4 linked regions of the Homo sapiens genome follow. The protein of the gene in region 4 purifies or fractionates together with the protein of the main gene of each other region. This does not show direct contact. Each region holds a gene or a part of one and is shown on either strand. Other genes may lie near its edges.

What was found. Proteins that work in one complex are often made in the same cells at the same time.
Region 1: the proteins of OR13C3 (region 4) and GDA purify together in Homo sapiens (affinity purification with mass spectrometry; one large-scale study listed by BioGRID and IntAct). This does not show direct contact.
Region 2: the proteins of OR13C3 (region 4) and ALDH1A1 purify together in Homo sapiens (affinity purification with mass spectrometry; one large-scale study listed by BioGRID and IntAct). This does not show direct contact.
Region 3: the proteins of OR13C3 (region 4) and BPIFB1 purify together in Homo sapiens (affinity purification with mass spectrometry; one large-scale study listed by BioGRID and IntAct). This does not show direct contact.

The regions. Positions count from the first base shown.
Region 1 is NC_000009.12:72,245,660-72,250,938, forward strand, and holds part of GDA (guanine deaminase), read left to right. Parts: intron 1-1,746; coding exon 1,747-1,774; intron 1,775-2,612; coding exon 2,613-2,683; 3' UTR 2,684-5,090; coding exon of another isoform or gene 5,091-5,179; 3' UTR 5,180-5,279. UniProt on the Homo sapiens protein: Catalyzes the hydrolytic deamination of guanine, producing xanthine and ammonia.
Region 2 is NC_000009.12:72,911,055-72,916,333, reverse strand, and holds part of ALDH1A1 (aldehyde dehydrogenase 1A1), read left to right. Parts: intron 1-4,211; coding exon 4,212-4,376; intron 4,377-5,279. UniProt on the Homo sapiens protein: Cytosolic dehydrogenase that catalyzes the irreversible oxidation of a wide range of aldehydes to their corresponding carboxylic acid.
Region 3 is NC_000020.11:33,298,934-33,304,212, forward strand, and holds part of BPIFB1 (BPI fold-containing family B member 1 precursor), read left to right. Parts: intron 1-137; exon of another isoform or gene 138-920; intron 921-965; coding exon 966-1,051; intron 1,052-2,299; coding exon 2,300-2,479; intron 2,480-3,425; coding exon 3,426-3,479; intron 3,480-3,982; coding exon 3,983-4,141; intron 4,142-5,024; coding exon 5,025-5,092; intron 5,093-5,279. UniProt on the Homo sapiens protein: May play a role in innate immunity in mouth, nose and lungs. Binds bacterial lipopolysaccharide (LPS) and modulates the cellular responses to LPS.
Region 4 is NC_000009.12:104,534,710-104,539,512, reverse strand, and holds OR13C3 (olfactory receptor 13C3), read left to right. Parts: upstream 1-2,656; 5' UTR 2,657-2,789; coding exon 2,790-3,743; 3' UTR 3,744-3,764; downstream 3,765-4,803. UniProt on the Homo sapiens protein: Odorant receptor.

The DNA.
Region 1 (5,279 bases), about 32 Mb from region 4:
TAGGGGCAGTGAGGCTTAAGGAAGGCTAAGTGATTTACGTAAAGACTCATAGCCAGTGATTAGTAGGTAGAGTTTGGATTCACACCTGGGACTTTCTGACTACGAGAGGCGAGGCTCTTGAGCACTATGCTATGTCAATGTTTTTAATTTTATAAGAAAATGAACTTTGTTTCTCTTATTATAAAATGTTTTTCTATGGATAAAATAAACTAGTTCATCTTACCTGAAAAATAATTCCTTGTAAGATATTGAGTTCTTCCTAAAAAAAGAATTAAGTATTGCCATTTCTAAATTGATCTACTTGTGAGAGTAATTGCGATAATAAATATGTTAAAGATTTTAAAAGAAAAATTCTGTATTATATGAAGTTTGTACCATTTGTTATTATAAAAGAGGAAAAATATATTTTTCTCTACCCATCTTAGGGTCAAGGCTGAGGTCACTATAACAAGAGACAGATTTAACAGGAGAAAGGCATACACATTTATTTAATATAAATTTTTTTGAGACGGAGTTTTGCTCTTGTCGCCCAGGCTGGAGTGCAATGGCATGATCTCAGCTCACTGCAACCACTGCCTCCTGGGTTCAAGCAGCTCTCCTGTCTCAGCCTCCCAGGTAGCTGGGATTACAGGCGCCCACCACCACACCCACCTAATTTTTGTATTTTTGGTAGAGACAGGGTTTCACCATGTTGGCCAAGCTGGTCTTGAACTCCTGACCTCAGGTAATCCACCTGCCTTGGCCTCCCAAAGTGTTGGGATTATAGGCGTGAGCCACTGTACCCGGCCTATTTAATATAAATTTTATGTGACATAGGTGCCTTCATAAGGAAGTGAAGAACCCAAGAAACAGGTAAACTTGGATATTTTTATGCTAGGTTTGATGAAGAGTGGAAAGTTGTAGAGAAATATGATAGGACAAAGAGTGTGGTCCAGTGGTAATAAGCTAGAGAGAACTTAGCAAGGCCTGCTTGTTCAGATTCTTCTCTGTGATCCTTTAGCTTCAGAGATCAGGTATAGGGAGGGCACCCCTTACGTGATGGTCTTATGACCTGCATTGGGGTAAGGGGTAAGGGGAGGGTCAGAGTGACCTTCCTGTGTTTGATTTGAGGGTAGCGTGTCCTGACCCCCTCATTATTTTCATATTGCTTATTCTTTTACTCTCTGATTAGAGTAAATTTCTAAGAATAGGGCTCTAGGGAATAGTCCTAGTGATTTTTCTTATATCAGGGGTGTCCAAGGGAGTTCTTAGTTTCTGTTTCAGGTTGTGCCAGTAAAGCCCCCTCCCTCATCCCTCTTTTCTGCTTATCAGTAGAGACAGAAACTAAAAACCATGGCTTCAGGCTGCTAAAAGCCTAAAACAAAACATAACAAAACAGAACAACAACAACAAAATAAGGCAGGTTGGATGAGCTTGTCTTACATCATACCCGTCTTGAAATATTTGAATTATTTTACTAAATTAATTTCTTTAATTTATATAATACCTTTTCTCTGATGACTCAAAATTCACATACCCAGAACTTTCACACAATAGGTAAACTTCTGTTAATTGCCAGTGGGTTATTTTTTGTTCTGGGAGGTTTTTATAAAGCACATAGCCACTTCTTTTTTAATTAATAGAAGTAGATTTTGCCATTGAGAAACAAATTCGTATTTCTGGGCTTTGTCAACCACTATCAGCTGTGAATTTACTTTTCTAAATGCACAAATGAGTCTTTCTTATTACTTTTATTTTCCATTTTAGGCTGTTATCCAGAAGTTCCTCTATCTAGGTAGGTAGATGCATGTCTCTATGCTAAATATTAAATAGAACCTTTCCCTGTCTTTTTCTTGGGTATGGCTCTATGTATTTATCCTACCATATATTAAACTCTGTGGATGATAATTTGCTTTGATTCATTATTTTTTTAACAGTCTGAAGCATCAAGCCCATTGGTGGCACATTATTTAAAGGTTCTATTTGAAATGCACATGACTCCCTCTAGTCATAAATTCTAAGCTGAGGAATGGAAGGCCAAAGGTGAAGAGATCTTCATGTTCAACCCTCTTGTACTCATTCGGTATCTGACATACTGCCCTGCCATGTTTTTGTGACAAATGTATAGTAGAGTCTCACCACACGTGCTGGTGATGTACTCACATTCAATTCCATTCACTGAGAGAGAGAGAAACAGTAATGCAGAATATTCTACACTGCCTCCCATTCTGTTCAGTGAGCCCAGGACTGAGTGAACTCAAGATGGAAAGATGCATGTGTTACTTCTTGTGGAGCTGATTCTGGAGCGTAAAGAGTAGTATTTCTTTCTCAGTGGGGGCAAAATGTAAACCAACCACTTCAGCTGAGAAAGGACAGCTATAGGGGGTTGATTCAACTTTATGTGATTTCTGCCTCTGGTGCAGAATTCAGACCCTAATCATCAAATTAGCTATGGCATTTTCTACTAGTCATATCTTCCTGTTCAGATTATAAACAATCTGAGGGTTGGGGGAAAGCAGCTTTTAGTATTTCCTCTCCTAGAAGTATCTTTAAAAAAAATCTCTCCCAATGGCAAGGAAGATACTTATTGACACAAAAGGATTTTATACATGATTCCTTGATTTTTCTTTCAGGAGATGATCGAAATATTGAAGAGGTTTATGTGGGCGGAAAGCAGGTGGTTCCGTTTTCCAGCTCAGTGTAAGACCCTCGGGCGTCTACAAAGTTCTCCTGGGATTAGCGTGGTTCTGCATCTCCCTTGTGCCCAGGTGGAGTTAGAAAGTCAAAAAATAGTACCTTGTTCTTGGGATGACTATCCCTTTCTGTGTCTAGTTACAGTATTCACTTGACAAATAGTTCGAAGGAAGTTGCACTAATTCTCAACTCTGGTTGAGAGGGTTCATAAATTTCATGAAAATATCTCCCTTTGGAGCTGCTCAGACTTACTTTAAGCTCAAACAGAAGGGAATGCTATTACTGGTGGTGTTCCTACGGTAAGACTTAAGCAAAGCCTTTTTCATATTTGAAAATGTGGAAAGAAAAGATGTTCCTAAAAGGTTAGATATTTTGAGCTAATAATTGCAAAAATTAGAAGACTGAAAATGGACCCATGAGAGTATATTTTTATGAGGGAGCAAAAGTTAGACTGAGAACAAACGTTAGAAAATCACTTCAGATTGTGTTTGAAAATTATATACTGAGCATACTAATTTAAAAAGAGAACTTGTTGAAATTTAAAACGTGTTTCTAGGTTGACCTTGTGTTTTAGAAATTTGCACTTAATGGAATTTGCATTTCAGAGATGTGTTAGTGTTGTGCTTTGCCTTCTTTGGCGATGAATGTCAGAAATTGAATGCCACATGCTTTCATAATATAGTTTTGTGCTTCAAAGTGTTTGACAGAAGTTGGGTATTAAAGATTTAAAGTCTCTTAGGAATATTATTCATGTAACTCCATGGCATAAATAGTTGTATTTTTGTGTACTTTAAAATCAACTTATAACTGTGAGATGTTATTGCTTCCATTTTATTAGAAGAGAAACAAATTCCATGCTTTATGGAATTTATGTAGACTGGAGTCTTCGTGAACTGGGGCAAATGCTGGCATCCAGGAGCCGCCAATACTAACAGGACAGGTTCCATTGCCATGGCCTATTCCACCCAAACAATATGTTGTAGTTTCTGGAAATTCCATACTCAGATATCAGTCTGCTAGAACTTTAAAATGAAGGACAAATCCTGTTAAAGAAATATTGTTAAAAATCTTTAAACCCTGTGTATTGAAAGCACTCTATTTTCTAATTTTATCCAGTTTTCTGTTTAACTCCTTATAATGTTTAGGATATTAAAATTTTAGGATAATGAAGAGTACATAATGTCCTACTTAATATTTATGTTAATAGGACTTAATTCTTACTAGACATCTAGGAACATTACAAAGCAAAGACTATTTTTATGCTTCCATAACCTAGAATTAAAACCAAATTATGACCTTATGATAAATCTTTAAGTATTGGTGTGAATGTTATTTAAATTCTATATTTTTCTTATTTAATTACAAATACTATAAATGAGCAAGGAAAAGGAATAGACTTTCTTAATATATTATAACACTCATTCCTAGAGCTTAGGGGTGACTCTTTAATATTACCTTATAGTAGAAACTTTATGTAATATAGCTAACTCCGTATTTACAGAACAAAAAAACACAGTTCCCCCTCCTGTAGTATAAATTTTATTTTCACATACTTAGCTAATTTAGCAGTAATTGGCCCAGTTTTTTCCCTAATAGAAATACTTTTAGATTTGATTATGTATACATGACACCTAAAGAGGGAACAAAAGTTAGTTTTATTTTTTTAATAAACAACAGAGTTTGTTTTGTGAGATAAGTATCTTAGTAAACCCAATTTCCAGTCTTAGTCTGTATTTCCAATATTTCTAATTCCTGAGCCACGTCAAAGATGCCTTGCCAAATTTCTCCCCATTTCTCTACGGGGCTAGCAAAAATCTTCAGCTTTATCACTCAACCCCTGCCAAAGGAACTTGATTACATGGTGTCTAACCAAATGAGCAGGCTTAGGAATTTAGATGAGATGTGTAAGATTCACTTACAGGCAGTAGCTGCTTCTAGCATTTGCAAGATCCTACACTTTTACCTTCTTTAAGGGTGTACATTTTGATGTTGAACATCAGTTTTCATGTAGACTTAGGACTCATGTGCAGTAAATATAAATAAGTGTAGCATCAGAAGCAGTAGGAATGGCCGTATACAACCATCCTGTTAAACATTTAAATTTAGCTCTGATAGTGTGTTAAGACCTGAATATCTTTCCTAGTAAAAATAGGATGTGTTGAAATATTTATATGTACTTTGATCTCTCCACATCACTTATAACTTATGTGTTTTATTTCTCCAAGTGCGGTGTTCCTGAATGTTATGTATGCTTTTTTTTCTGTACCACAGGCATTATCTATACCTGGGGCCAGATTTTCTGCACTTTGAAATGTTGCCTTTGCCTAATGTAGGTTGACTTTCTGAATTGTGGAGAGGCACTTTTCCAAGCCAATCTTATTTGTCACTTTTTGTTTTAATATCTTGCTCTCTGACAGGAAAGAAACAATTCACTTACCAGCCTCCTCACCCCATCCTCCACCATTTCCTTAATGTTCCATGGTATTTTCAACGGAATACACTTTGAAAGGTAAAAACAATTCAAAAGTATCGATTATCATAAATTCACAAAATATTTTTGCAACCAGAACACAAAAGCAGGCTAGTCAGCTAAGGTAAATTTCATT
Region 2 (5,279 bases), about 32 Mb from region 4:
TATCCAAAGATCATCTTTCCCTCTTCCTTGCATAGTTCTCTGTTCATTGTTTGTTTAAGCTTCTGGATCTTTGGTTGTGAATTTCTTCCTGCCCTTTGGGTCTTGTTCTAGAGCAGTGATTCTAAACTGGGGCAATTTTGCTCCCCTCACCCCGGGGACATTTGGCAATGTCTAGGGATATTTTAAGTTGTCACTACCTTGGTGAGAAGCGGTGGCTCTACAGGCATCTAGTGAGTAGAGGCCAGAGATGCTGCTAAACATCTTGCAGTGACCAGGACAGCCCCATGACAAAGAATTATCTGGCCCAAAATGCCAACAGGACAACTGCCGAGAAATCCTGCTCTGGAGTCTAGACATTAAGCTTAGAGGCTCTGTTCTTTCACAATAAAGGTTTTACACTGATGCGTGCTGTCAATTTGAAACCAAACGCTATTCTTGACTCATTCACTAAGCCAAAAGTAAATTCAATTAACTAAAAGTTAGTGAACGTTGCTATCAGCTAAAACTTGAGATGGGTACCTGGCAATGCCAAAAAGAACAAAGAGGACTTGATCCCGGACCTCATGGAGTTTACAGTCCAAGTAAGTTGGACAGTCTTGGATTTTCCTGTTCATCTCAAGACATCCAAGTAGGAAAATCTTAGGACTTAGGCAGTGTAACATATTGAAATCTAAAGGCCCTAAAATAAGCGGCAAGTGAGGTAATACTTTGTTTTATCTTAATCCCATTATATTTTGTATTTGTCTTTGAGTTTAATGAGTACTTAAAAGTAGTTGCCCTTTTTTTCATATTTGGTATATGGATGCCAAGAGATATATTCAAATCAGTTTTGACTTGGTCTCCCATTTCAAAAAAGAATGGAATTCTATGTTTTTTGTTGTGATTATTTATCTATCTAACTAAAAGTGAAGCACTTTTCTTATTTTGTTGATGGATTGATGGATGATTGATTGATAGATCTGAAGAGAGGAGAGAATACCTAAGATACCTAATGCCTAATTGTTGGGCAGTACTTTCCTCCATTAGGACATCTTCACAATTCAACCAAAGACTCAAAAATTGAGCTGGAATACCTCATTGATTTTAAGATAAGGAAGTTAAAATAGACTTAAAAATTCCTATTTGTAAGATTCTAAAGTAAATAATCCAGTGATCTAGAATTTAGTTTCTATAAATGAATAGAATCCAGTGATCTGATTAATATAAGAATTTAGTTTCTATAAGTGAATAGATTTTTATCACAAGTTCCATTGAGTCAGTAGGATAAGTAGGTATGTTAGAATTTGGAGAAACAAAAGACTAAAAAGCCCTGGGCTCCTTTACCATTAAATATTCATCTATTGTTAGGAGAAAAAACTTACGCAAAGGGGATACTCACTCACTAAGCTTTAGCCTATTGCCTCATCCAGGGGTGGTTGAGTGAACTGAGGCTTTTAAATACAATGATGGAATCTTCCTCATTAAATATAACATCAAAAAGGTTATAGAAAAAATAATGGTCAAAACGATTTGTTTTAGGGGAAAAAATTAAAGTTTAAAAAAATTTGAACATTACAAATTATTTGGGGGTTAGAGCAATTACAAAATATATATATATACTTTGCATATTTGTATTATATCTGTGGATTCATGTGTGTATCTTTTTCATATTTCAAGTGATTTTCCTATTTGACTTTATAGAAAAAATATATATTGTCTTAAACTTGGAAAAATTAGTATTTTCATTTGAAACAGAAATTGTGATAGCCACATAAACGATACTAAAATTATCACAGAGTAGCACCTTATAATAGTGTGGAAAGATGGACTTTGGAGTTACAGTTATATAGGATTTAAACTGGATTTAAAATCCAGCCTCCCTGAAACTATTGTCTTATGTGTAGAATGTGCATAGAAACCTCAATCTTGAAGAATAATTCTGCAGTGCAATTGGATAATCTATAAAATGTATCCATCAGAGTGCTTGGTCCACATGCTCAAATGTCTAGTAAATAAATAAAAATTACATGCTTCCATTTATACCCATGGTGACAATTATCATACAGATCAATTACTTCTATATCTATTCATTGCTTTTGTTGATACATGGTTTCTGAATAATTTGAGAACATGTAAGTGCTTTTTCCCAATTCATCTTCTTTAACCCATTAAGCCTAAGGAATCAAAGAATTTACCCATTCAAACACCTTAAAATGTTTCCTTTGAGACTGTTACCATATCATGACCTACCTAATACATTTCATAGACTAGCCCATAGGCCAATGGCCCATCACATGAAAGAGCCCCAGCTACATCCTAGCATTATTGGACAGTCCCAGGTGTCCAGAAAGAAGGTCAAGTTTATATATGGTCAGCCTGATGCCTTCTGAAGAAGGTCTGTATTTGTGGTGAATCAAAATTAGCCAGACAAAACTGACCAGTCTCTAAGTAGAGCCTAATTTTTTGTTTGTAGTCCCAAGCTCCACCACAGTGTTCCTCAATCTTTCCTGTGCCCGGGGATTCAGTAGATCTGAGGTGGGGTCAAAGAAGCACATTTGGCTACCAAGTGATGCCACAACTGCTGGTTGTAGGACCACATTGTCGGTAGCAAGGCACTGAAATACAAAGGCCTGTAGTTTTATAAGTTAGCGACCATCTAAGTTTTCCAACAAATAAGGCTTTTCAGCCCTTTTCTCCAGTATGTATGCAGGGATTTGATTGGCACTGGTTATTCAACGTGGTCACAGACAGGAAAACATGACTTGGGAAATACATCTTGAAATAAAAACCAGATATCATGATGTTGAGGGCATAGTCAGATTAATATGTTCCAATAAGACAGAAAGCTTTATGTGGAGTGACATGGACCCTTGACTATTTATTGAGAAACTAGAATACCTTACCCAGGCAGAATTTATCTCACCCCACCCCTTAGTCTGCTACTATTCAACCTATGTAGTAATTTAAATATTTCTTCTTAACACTATTTTTTTCTTAATCTGCTGGAAATGAAGGAATATTTTCCTTCTGGGATATTATATTAAATATTGCACTAAAGACTGTTGAGCAACATTGTACCAAATATTGTGCCAAATTTTAGAAAATAGTTTCTAGTTTCAAATAGTGCTTAATCTAGTTAGATATGGGGGCTGAGCTGTATTCAGTTAGAAATAACTTTATGGAAGCTTTTTCTTGGCTTTGGAAGATAAAGAAGATTTGCAGAGTCAGAGAAGAGTAAGAGAAAGTGAAACATAAAACTTTTCAAGTAGTGGGAAGTTAAACCTACAAGAGCTTCCACCCTCCAACCCATCTTAGCTCCTAGATCTCCTGTTTTTCCTTTAATCCTTAACCCCTGCTACACCTGAGATAGGCAGCCCTCACCGGTTACTTGGAATCCAAGAGTCACCCAGTTATTCAATGTCACAAAATAGAAATTGAGACAAAAATTAGCCCCAGATTTCAGTGCTTGAAGAGGTACGTGTTCCTGGTGTTCACAACCAGAACTCCAAACTCATTTATTTTCCTTATAAAAATAGTGTTTAAATAAAGACGATTTAAGTTCTGTAATACTTGGCACATAGTTAGATGTGGCTCATTTAATGAAGCAGGATGGTGACATTCAGGACAGGCCAGAAATTGGAAGCAGATTTACTGACTGCCCCAGTGGGACCAGAACTGGGAAGGGTGCGCAGACTATGGTCAGAATGGGATATCCAAGGGCATCGGACAGGTCAGAGTGGGTGATTCAGAAATGGGGAGATCAAACAGAGGCTCGGGAGTCTTCTAAGAACAGTCTTAAAGCATCTGCTTCCCAACAGATCTAATTAAACTCAGTATCAAAGTTCTGTTTTTCTCTTTTCCCTCCTTTCATTTCAGCCGGGACAATAGTTTCCAGGTAAATGTATTTAGATTAACAGGCATTTCTTCCAGAGTGAATAAATGATGATTGTCATTTATGTGTTTTTTATGTGTTTGCAGTGCTGAATGCTTTCCTATATAACTATAAAACAAATGTTAAATACAAATATCTGTCTTCAAGAGATTTTCCCCTAAAAGTCATGAGAAGAAAATATATCCAAAGAATGAATCTGAACCTCTGTTAGCTGTTTCGATTCAATATTTGGTTTAATTGCAATATTTTAGCATTTTGAAGCCCTTGTTAACAGGCCCAGCAATGTGTTATCTTTACAAGTGACTACTTTTTTTCTTTTCATGTGATATTTTTCAAATAGATTGACAAGGAACAATATGATAAAATACTTGACCTCATTGAGAGTGGGAAGAAAGAAGGGGCCAAACTGGAATGTGGAGGAGGCCCGTGGGGGAATAAAGGCTACTTTGTCCAGCCCACAGTGTTCTCTAATGTTACAGATGAGATGCGCATTGCCAAAGAGGAGGTAAATGGCTTCATTCTGTTCTGTTCTTTTTGTTGCCATGTTTTGTCTGTTTGTGTGTATACAAAGTGTCACTTTAAAATTCCCAGCTCTTTGGAACATCTTTCCCTCTAAACCTTACTCTTTATTCTGTTCTTGATAGAGGTTTAAGTTATTTGTGATAGATACTAAAAAGTAGTAAGGGATCCATGGGGCCAGCCACAAATGTTCAGCCAACACAGATCTGGATGCTTAACAATTTTCAGGTGCTGCCTTCACAGCTTTAAAACAATGGAAAAGAATCCTGTCATTTGCAGCAACAACCTGGAAAATTTATGCTCCATGAAATATGACAGGCATAAAAAGACAAATACCGCAGGGTCTCACTTTTATGTGGGATCTCAAAGAGTAGAACTCATAGAAGCAGAGATTGGAATGGTGGTTACCAGGGGCTTGGGGGAGTGGAGGATGAGGGTTGGGAAATGTTGGTCAAAGGATTCAAACTTTCAATTAGGAGGAGTAAGTTCAAGAGAGCTATCGTAAATATCCTGACTGTAATTAATAACAATGTATTGTATACTTGAATATTGCTAAGAGAGTCAATTTTAAGTGTTCTCACCACAAAAGAGATAAATATATAGGTTCTACTTTCTGGTTCCACCTTTGCCCTATAGACTCTTTCTATATAACAGCCATCCATGTATTTGAAAACAGCATTCATCCCCTCTATCACTCCCTACCTTCTATGTGCTCTTAGTCCTATTTGTTTCAGCTGTTAGACTTCCTGATTTTGTATATTGCAGTTAAGTGTTTGGTGAGTGTATATATGTGTGTCTGTATACATATATAATGTGTATATACATTATATATATGCTCACCAAGTATTTAACTACAATATACAAAATTAGAAAAAAAATGAGCTGTCAT
Region 3 (5,279 bases), on a different chromosome or scaffold from region 4:
GTTGTTATAGCCATTTTCGGGGACCTTATTGACTTTAATATACTTTTTTTTTTTTTTTGGAGACGGACCTTTTTTCTTTTTTTAAAGTAATTTTTACAGGAGTCATGCTCATCGTCTCTATGTCCTTCCGATTTTAGTACATGTGCTGCCCTGGCGGGCACTATACCCTCATTTTAAGACGAGGAAACAGATTCAGACGCGAGAAGAGACCAGCCAAGGTCACTGGGGCTCAAACCGAAGTCCAGCTGGCTCCTCCGCTGCCCCGAGGACGGGCCCGGAGGTCTCCCTGGAGCGGTAGGCGGCCGGTCCCTGGCCCTCCAGCACTCCCCATCCTCGGCCATACACCGGGGCAGGTGACACACCACCGCCACCTGGCGGCCAAGTGGGGAATTCTGACGCGAACACGAGATCTTTGGGGGGAGCAGAGGAGCCAGTTTGGATTTCAGAGTAGATGTTACCAGGCCTCTGGCTTCCAGCCTAAGCTTCCTTGAGATCCAGGTGCTCATAGGGTGTCCAGACCCAGAACCACCTGCATGGGGGACGCGGCTTTCAGTCTGGTAGGGGCGGTGGAGTGTTACATACAATAGTTCAGTTCCGTTCCAAACCGGGACTTTGGCATAAAACCGACTGGGTTCCCATGCTCTCATAGTATGGCTTTGAACAGGTCATTTCCCTTTCCTCAGACTTGGTTTCACCATCTGTAAAAGGGGGTAATAATAAGACCTACTTCCTAACGTTATCATGCAGATGAACCAGCTGACATGCAGAGGCCTGGCACTTAGTGGATGCTCGATAAATGTCACTGTCATCACTGTTTGCATCATTATTATCAACATCATTATTACCTGCTCCTCCCTACCTGCCCCCCCATGCAACAGTACAGCTCCACCTGGAAGCAGCCCCCCAACTTCCCCCTCCAATACTGCCCTCCACCCTCACAGAACTTTCTTCTTGTCCTTGAGCAGTGCCCATTTCCCTCAGCATTGACCGTCTGGAGTTTGACCTTCTGTATCCTGCCATCAAGGGTGACACCATTCAGCTCTACCTGGGGGTGAGTGTCCCAGGACCTTGAGGGTGAAGTGGGGACATTGCTGCCCTTCTCTGACCACCAGGAGTCAGATAGCATGGGCCTGTGTTAGGAGAGAAAATCCTGGTCACCATTAGGACACGGGCTGATCTAGAAAAATCACTGCAGGCTGAATATGTCCCATGCAAGTTTGTTTTGTTTTGTTTTTTTGAGACTGAGTCTCACTGTCACCCAGAGTGACATGGGGGGGCCCGAGTGGGGACACTGGGCCCTCAGCCTTTCTCTCAGGCAAGTCCCTGCCAATCCCCAAACCTATGACAACCTTGAAACAAAAGCCAAGGATCAAGAAACACAGACCTAAGTTTCTCTCCTAGCTCTATGATTCCCTGGCTATGTGACTTTGGGCAAGTTCCTTTACCTCCCTGAGCCTCAGTTTCCTTGTCTGCAAAATGTCAGTAATAATGGCCACTGAGGAGAGGATGAAATGAGACCACACCATGCCTGGCAGACCAGAAGTGCCCAGTAACTGTCAGCTCCCTGTCCAATGTGGAGCTGCACAGCCATGCTGTGGCTGGACGCCCCAAAGGGCCAGACCATCCTGGTAGCATGAATCCCAGACTAGGTTTCTTTTGTTTTGTTTTTTTGAGACTGAGTCTCACTCTGTCACCCAGGCTGGAGTGCAGTGGTGCCATCACAGCTCACTGCAGCCTTGACCTCCTGGGCTCAAGCGATCCTCTCACCTCAACCTCCTGAGTAGCTGGGACTGCAGGCACTCGCCACCACGCCTGGCTAATTTTCTGTATTTTTTGTAAAGATGGGGTTCCGCCATGTTGCCCAGGCTGGTCTCAAACTCCTGGGCTCAAATGATCCTCCCACTTCGGCCTCCCAAAGTGCTAAGATTACAAGCATGAGCCAACACGCCTGGCCCCTGGACTAGTTTCTATGGATCCTTTGGAAAACTGCAGCATCAAATCGTTTCTTCCATTTTGTTGTAGTTTTTAATTTTCCCTCCATCCAAAGGGTTTGAGGTGTCTGAGAAGTTGAAGCATGGGAAAAAAAACGAAGATATCTGGTACAAAAAATAAAAGTCAGAGATTATCCGAGGGGCAAAGATGGAGTAGATGTTGCCACACACCTGAGCTCCAGGCTAAGCTTCCTGGCAACAAATGCACAAAAAGGAAACAGGCTGAATGGTGTCATTTCCTTCTAGGTTGCTATTGGGTAAGCTGCAGAGTTAAAATTCTTAGCTGACTCCCTGCTCTGTCTCCTCAGGCCAAGTTGTTGGACTCACAGGGAAAGGTGACCAAGTGGTTCAATAACTCTGCAGCTTCCCTGACAATGCCCACCCTGGACAACATCCCGTTCAGCCTCATCGTGAGTCAGGACGTGGTGAAAGCTGCAGTGGCTGCTGTGCTCTCTCCAGAAGAATTCATGGTCCTGTTGGACTCTGTGGTAAACCTCAGCACAAGGCAGAGAATAGGGCCGCCCAGGCCACATCATAGGAATTTCCTGAACACAGGGTGCCCCTAAGCAGGAATCCTCCATCAGGCTCAGTTTAATGGAGATCTCACTCCCTCCTCTAATAGACCCTGCCTCTGACATAGCTCTAAACCTAAAATCCTCCCGGTAACATCCAGCCCCAGTCATGGTTCTACCCTCTGGAATCTGATGCAAATGTTTCCTCTACCAAATAACAGTCTCGTGAAATCAAAAGGCATCTTAGATATGCAGTAGTCCAGGGGTGATAAATACATCTCAGATAGTGAGTAGTCCAGGGATGGCGACTGTGCCACTGCTCACCACTATGACACTCATGGCAGACATCACTAATCGATCAAGGCTCTCCTTTCTACTGAGTCTGGATGCTGACACAACCTTGGAATCCTTATTAACAGGGCACAGCCGATAACCACCACCAGTCAACTATGTTGTGCCACCTCCTCCCGGGTGACTGACGGGGAAATTGAGGTCCAGAGGGGGAAAGGGTTGGTCCAACGTTATGGGAGGATGGCAGAACTTCAGGGCAGCTGACAGACAACCAATAACCAAGCTCTCAGGGGACTGGGATGGCGAGAAAATAGGGAGTGGTCACCAACTAGCCCATTCATGATTGCAGTAAAAATGAAATCACCTCTCTATGTCCTCTGAGATCAGGAAGCTGCCCCCAGACCCACAACCATCACCAGCCCACAGTAAAAGTCCAGGCCAGCAGGACCCCATGCCCCATAGAAGCTGACCTAGGGGCTGTTTTTCCACCAATGACAGACACATGGCTTGGGTCACTGGGCCCACCCAGCTTTTCTGGGGTCCTGGGAAACCTTCCTCCCAGCAGTGGGGTGCAGGAGATGTGCCTCCCTGTGCCCTCCAACTGACCTTCTCTGGCTCCTCTCACCCTCAGCTTCCTGAGAGTGCCCATCGGCTGAAGTCAAGCATCGGGCTGATCAATGAAAAGGTTGGTCTGTTTGCCATCTGCAGCTTGAGGGGTGTTTGCTGTGGTCTGGACACAGGCCTCTGGGGAGGAGAATCTAGTGGGACTAGTGTTTCATTCCAGCACTGGGACACTCAAACCGCATCCCTGTCCGCACAGAGATTTCAGTCTAGCAGGCCAGTTTGACCTGAAGCAAATCATCACATGGATAGTATTTCCATTACAGCTGCAGTAACACAGGACAGGTTCTAGGGGCCATGAGAACACTCTGGGCCCCTGATACAGTCTGGGACGTCAGGGAGGCCTCCCTGAAGGGAAGGGCATTCCAGACAGAGGGAACAGGAGACCAAAGGCTGCCAGGTAGGGAGAACAACACAACATTCAAGGATCTGCAAGAAGGACAGGGTGGCTGGAACACGTGAGGGAGCAGGGAGCCCAGGAAGGCAGGCAGGGGCCAGGCCACACACAGAGCCTGTGGGCCATGGTGGGCACTTGGGAGGCCACATGTGGGTCTGATCTCCTTCCAGGCTGCAGATAAGCTGGGATCTACCCAGATCGTGAAGATCCTAACTCAGGACACTCCCGAGTTTTTTATAGACCAAGGCCATGCCAAGGTGGCCCAACTGATCGTGCTGGAAGTGTTTCCCTCCAGTGAAGCCCTCCGCCCTTTGTTCACCCTGGGCATCGTGAGTTCAGTTGTCTGCGATATTGGCAGCAACCAGGGGGACCCTTCTGTCTACTTTTCCTGTTCGCCCTCTTGCTTTGTTAAACATTTCCACCACTCTCATCACTTAGCAGGGACAGGGGACAGGGAGCTCTGAACCAAGAGCCAGGAGCTTTGTGGGTCCAATTCTAACCCTGTGACTTTCTTAGTCAGGAATCTCTGGACAGAAACTCAACTCATATGCACAAAAGGAATTGTATTAGCTCCTATAACTAAAAAGTCTAGATGCTATTGACTTCGGGAATAGCTGGACCCAGGTGCTCAAACAATATCCTCTTCATTCTCCTCTCTCCCACCTAGCAGCCTTGTTTTCCTCTGTGCTGCCTTCATCCTCAGGCAAGCTATTCCCTCATGGTAGTGCCCCAGGCTGCATTAGGCTCATATCCTATCAGCTTGGCAATCACCGCAGGAAGAACCTATCTTTCCAATAGTTCCAGCAAACATCTCAGGGCTGACTCTCACTGAATGAGCCTGAGTCAGTTGCCCATTCTTGAGCCAATCAGTGTGTCCAGAAAAATGGAATATGAAAACTTCCTGAGCTGGGCCACCTACACACTAGGGTAAGGGAGTGAGGGCTCTATGAATAGTGGCTGCTTTCGTCGTCGTCATCGTCATCATTATCATTCCCCACAGCAAGCCTAGACTGTCATCTGTTAAATGGGGAGTGGAGGCAAGTACTATCTCATTTAACAGATGAGGCAGGTGAGGCCCAGAGAGGTCAAACCCTTTGCCAAGGTCCCAGAGCCAGGAACTGAGATTCAGACCCCAGAGCCTCCCTGCATAACCCCTAATTCCACACTCGGATCCTCTTGAGAACAATGGGGCCTGGGCTTCTCTTGTTGCAGGAAGCCAGCTCGGAAGCTCAGTTTTACACCAAAGGTGACCAACTTATACTCAACTTGAATAACATCAGGTAAACACACAAATCATCATGAAGATTCTGCTGATGGAAATGAGTCCCGCCTGGTAACCATGGGTTTCTTTAAACACCGACTTTGTGGCTGTCAGGTGAAGGCGGCTCCAGGGTAGGCAGGGAGGTCCTTCCGGATGCTCCTGCTGACAAGGACTGCATGTGAGGGAATGGGGAGGAAAATGAAGTA
Region 4 (4,803 bases):
GAAGCTACAATAAAAGTTGTCTAAATAAATGAAATGCAGAGATTTTCCTTCTTTTCCTTCCTTCCCTTCATTCCCTTCCTTCCCTTCCTTCCCTTCTTCCCTTCCTTCCCTTCCCTTCCCTCCCCTTTCCCTCCCTCCTTCCCTCCTTCCTTTACTCTCTTCCTTTCCTCCTTTTGCCCTCCCTTCCCTTTTACCCTTCCTCCCATCTTCCCTTCTTTCTTTCCTCCCTGCTTCGTTTCCCTCCTTCTCTCTCTTCTTAAAGCTGAATAATAAAAATTAACAATCTATTGTGGGCTCATTTTTTTTTGTCTTTAAGATTGAGATTGTATATTCTCTTCCTTGCCTTTCTCTTCAAAGTTTAAATATTTCTATTGTGTATCCTTAACTAAATTTTTCCTATAGTAAAGATTCTGTTGAGTTGGATTTCTGACTCCTAGTAATATCTGCTCTACACAAAACTTCCCAGTGACTATCATGTGACCAACAGTCACAGTGTGGGGAAGAGTGGATGTGCTAACATTCTCAAAGCTATTAGCCCATGCAAAACCTACATTTGTGATTTTGACCAAAATTAAATCTAGTAGTGATTATAGAAAGATCAATTATCATGCCTATTCTGTAATTAGTGACAACTCCGCTAATCTAAATGCTTTAATTCCCTGAGTTACATTTCTACTAAAAAATCTTGTAACACCATATTCTATGAGGTCAAATTTAGAGAACTGCTAAAGTCTAATGGGCGAGGTGCTTACCCCATGCTCTGTGCTTTCTAATGATAGACCTCTTTTCCACCAAAAGAAATGACACTTTTTCTGCCTGATTTTAGAGCCTTTCTATATGCACCTGTCAGGCTTTCTTTCTCAGATGTGTTTCCCACCACTCTTTCACAGAAACTCCCTTGTGCTGCCAGTCGGCTTACTCCTAACTTTGGTCCAACTTCTCACTTTTGAGATATCCCTTTTCTCTTTTAACCCTGTCTAATTCTTTTCCATACTCCCAGGTTCAGCTGAACACTGAAACTCCGGAGTTCTCCTTGGCCTAATTTATTTCTCATAAAATTCTTCCTTCTGGGAAAAACTGTAATTTTCATGTAAGCTATAGAAAGTGACTGTAAATTATTTTGATATGTTCTTTTCTTATATCCCTACCTAAATTGTGAACTTTGTAATGACAGGCACTTTAAAAATGCTGCTTTTTAAAAATATGTGTTTCAATAATATTTTTAAAGGGTATTTTAAAAAATGGTGTCAATCTGGAGTTTCCGTAAAACATCAAAGAATTATGCTCTTGACATTTTCAAGGTTCTTATTGCCAATCTACACAATAAGGCAAAAAAAACTGGCTTGAATTAGAAACATCTAGATAATTGGCCAACTTAGTATAGACTAAGCCTTGCTACTCAAGTGATTTTGGGACCAGTGGCATAAGCGTCACCTGGGCACCTGCAAGAAATGCAGAATCTCAGGACTGGCCTGAACACTAAAAGAGAATCTGAAGGTTTTTAGGTTTCCCAGATGTTTGCCGGGTGTGGTGGCTCATGCCTATAATCCCAGCATTTTGGGAGGCTGAGGTGGGCAGATCACAATGTCAAGAGATGGAGACCATCCTGGCCAATATAGTGAAACCCCGTCTCTACTAAAAATACAAAAGTTAGCTGGGCATGGTGGTGCACGCCTGTAGGTGGAGGTTGCAGTCAGCCCCGATCGTGCCACTGCACTCCAGCCTGGTGACAGAGTGAGACTCTGTCTCAAAAAAGAAAAAAAAATTCCTAGATGCTTTACGTGTATATGAAAATTAGTGAAGCCAAGAACTAGACTTTGTGTCGAAAATATTAGCTTTACATTACATTTTATTATTTACTACCTAGTTAATCTTGGCCAAGTTCCATATTTTATAGTTGAAAAATGGGGTTAATATAAAGAATATTATAATTTGTAAATGGTAAAGTGGTATACATACACATGTATACATATTTATATGAAATATTTAAACATTATTACTGTTTTTATTGGTTGATTTAAATGAGTAAATTATCAAGACAGACTCTTAAGCTACAGAGTAAAATATGTAAAGACACTATATAATGTTCTCCAAAGACTATCACATTCATGCGGAGCTGTTCTGGGCAATGGTCTTGTCATAGGAACAGTCATAACAAGATACTATGAGATCAACAACTAACTATGCCTTTAAACAATTGTCAAATTTCAGGGTATGTGATTCAATGTATTATTATTAAGTGTCTGTAAAATACACAATTAAACTAACTATAAGGTATTAGTATCAGGCCTAGAAAAAAATATAAACACACAAAAATGTCAAAGTTGCTGTGAAATTTTAAACACTTTATAAATTGCTGAATTAAAATTCCAGTCTTTGTTGAGTAGTCTTTTGCCCCCTTTACTGCTTGTTTGCTGGGGTTGATGAAATGAAGATGTTAAGCTTAGAGTTGTTGATTGGCCAGGGGTTTTAGAAACCTCAGCTCGGGAGAGTGTCCTCAACTCAGGAACATGTCCTCAACAGCAGGAAAGGTTCCGTCTGCATGTGTGTCTGATCGTGGGTAGATCTTCACATATTGGCGATGCGGTATAGGTGCTTCCATCATTCCCAATTTCATTGTATTCTAGTCACACACATTACTGAAGATAACTGGATGTCAGAACTTCAAGCAAGCACTCCTTCTAATATGTGTCAAAAGAATGATTGTTCAGTTAATTTGTACTGTTTGTTTCTTGGCAGTAAATACATTTCATGTTAGATCTTCTTTTGATTTCCTGAAAGCAGATGACATGGGTGAGATTAACCAGACACTTGTGTCAGAATTTCTTCTTCTGGGTCTTTCTGGATACCCAAAGATTGAGATTGTTTACTTTGCTCTCATTCTAGTTATGTACCTAGTGATTCTAATTGGCAATGGTGTTCTAATCATAGCCAGCATCTTTGATTCTCATTTTCACACACCAATGTACTTCTTCCTGGGCAACCTCTCTTTCCTGGATATCTGCTATACATCCTCCTCTGTTCCCTCAACATTGGTGAGCTTAATCTCAAAGAAAAGAAACATTTCCTTCTCTGGATGTGCAGTGCAGATGTTCTTTGGGTTTGCAATGGGGTCAACAGAATGTCTGCTTCTTGGCATGATGGCATTTGATCGTTATGTGGCCATCTGCAACCCACTGAGATACCCCATCATCCTGAGCAAGGTGGCGTATGTATTGATGGCTTCTGTGTCCTGGCTGTCCGGTGGAATAAATTCAGCTGTGCAAACATTACTTGCCATGAGACTGCCTTTCTGTGGGAATAATATTATCAATCATTTCGCATGTGAAATATTAGCTGTCCTCAAGCTGGCCTGTGCTGATATATCCCTCAATATTATCACCATGGTGATATCAAATATGGCCTTCCTGGTTCTTCCACTGATGGTCATTTTTTTCTCCTATATGTTCATCCTCTACACCATCTTGCAAATGAATTCAGCCACAGGAAGACGCAAGGCATTTTCCACGTGCTCAGCTCACCTGACTGTGGTGATCATATTTTACGGTACCATCTTCTTTATGTATGCGAAACCGAAGTCTCAAGACCTGATTGGGGAAGAAAAATTGCAAGCATTAGACAAGCTCATTTCTCTGTTTTATGGGGTAGTGACACCCATGCTGAATCCTATACTCTATAGCTTGAGAAATAAGGATGTAAAAGCTGCTGTAAAATATTTGCTGAACAAAAAACCAATTCACTAATGAAACCAGGACATGTAGGTCTTTGTTTAACAGTCACAAAGATGGACTCTTAGGTAAATCAGCCTGAACCTTTTTTGGAGAAACCATGGTTAGAGAGACAGATTTTTATCCTTTGCCTTTACTAGCCCTGCTCATCTAGAATCACTGATAACTATAGTTTGCTACAAACTCCAGCATGCCCTGATCCACGTTTCACAAACATAATTAATTCTCTTAGAATCTCATCCCTTGTGATGTCTGAAATGAGTGTTTCTGTGTAGAAACATAGTGGAAAACAATCACACTATAAGCTTTGGAAATAGAGAGCAATAGTACAAAATCTGCAGTTCCGTAAACTACCTAGGTGATATTGGATAGATTATTCTTTCTTTCTAAGACATAGTTACCTTACTTGTAATAAGGAAATAAAATAATAAAAAAATCCAGGTCCCAATATCATTTAATGTTTCAATAAGTTGGAGGAAGCACCTAACATAATACTGGCTTCACAGTGTCCAAGAATTTCAGAATTGAAGCTAAGACTCCATAGTGAGGACTAAAAGTTGCTATTTATCCCCTCTTTTACTCTCAGCTAATAATTACTAGAGCCAGATGTCTCACTGAAAGTCACCCCATTAAGGTAATATTTTCTAAAATTTTAAAATTCAATATTTTCTAAAATTCTAAAAAAAATAAAAAAGAATTAAAAAAAGAAAAATTGGCCACCTCCCAAATATATCATTCTAATGTTTCTCTTAGTAAGTAGGAATCATGTATTCATCATGTTTTTATTTTGATTTATTAGATCTACTATGAGCACTTGGGCCAAATTTTTTTTTAATGTCCAACACATGTTTTCACAGGATAAATTCTAAGGCATGAAATTAATAGGCCAGGTGGTATAAACTTTTAAAGTTCCTGGCTAACTTACCATTGGAAAGGTCGTATTACTACCCTAAATACCATTATATGTTTCCCCCAATATGTTTGCAGCTCTATTTAAATACATACGCATACACACATATATCTCCATTTATACATACACACATTTGTGTTTATATATATATAAGAATATTTTTTC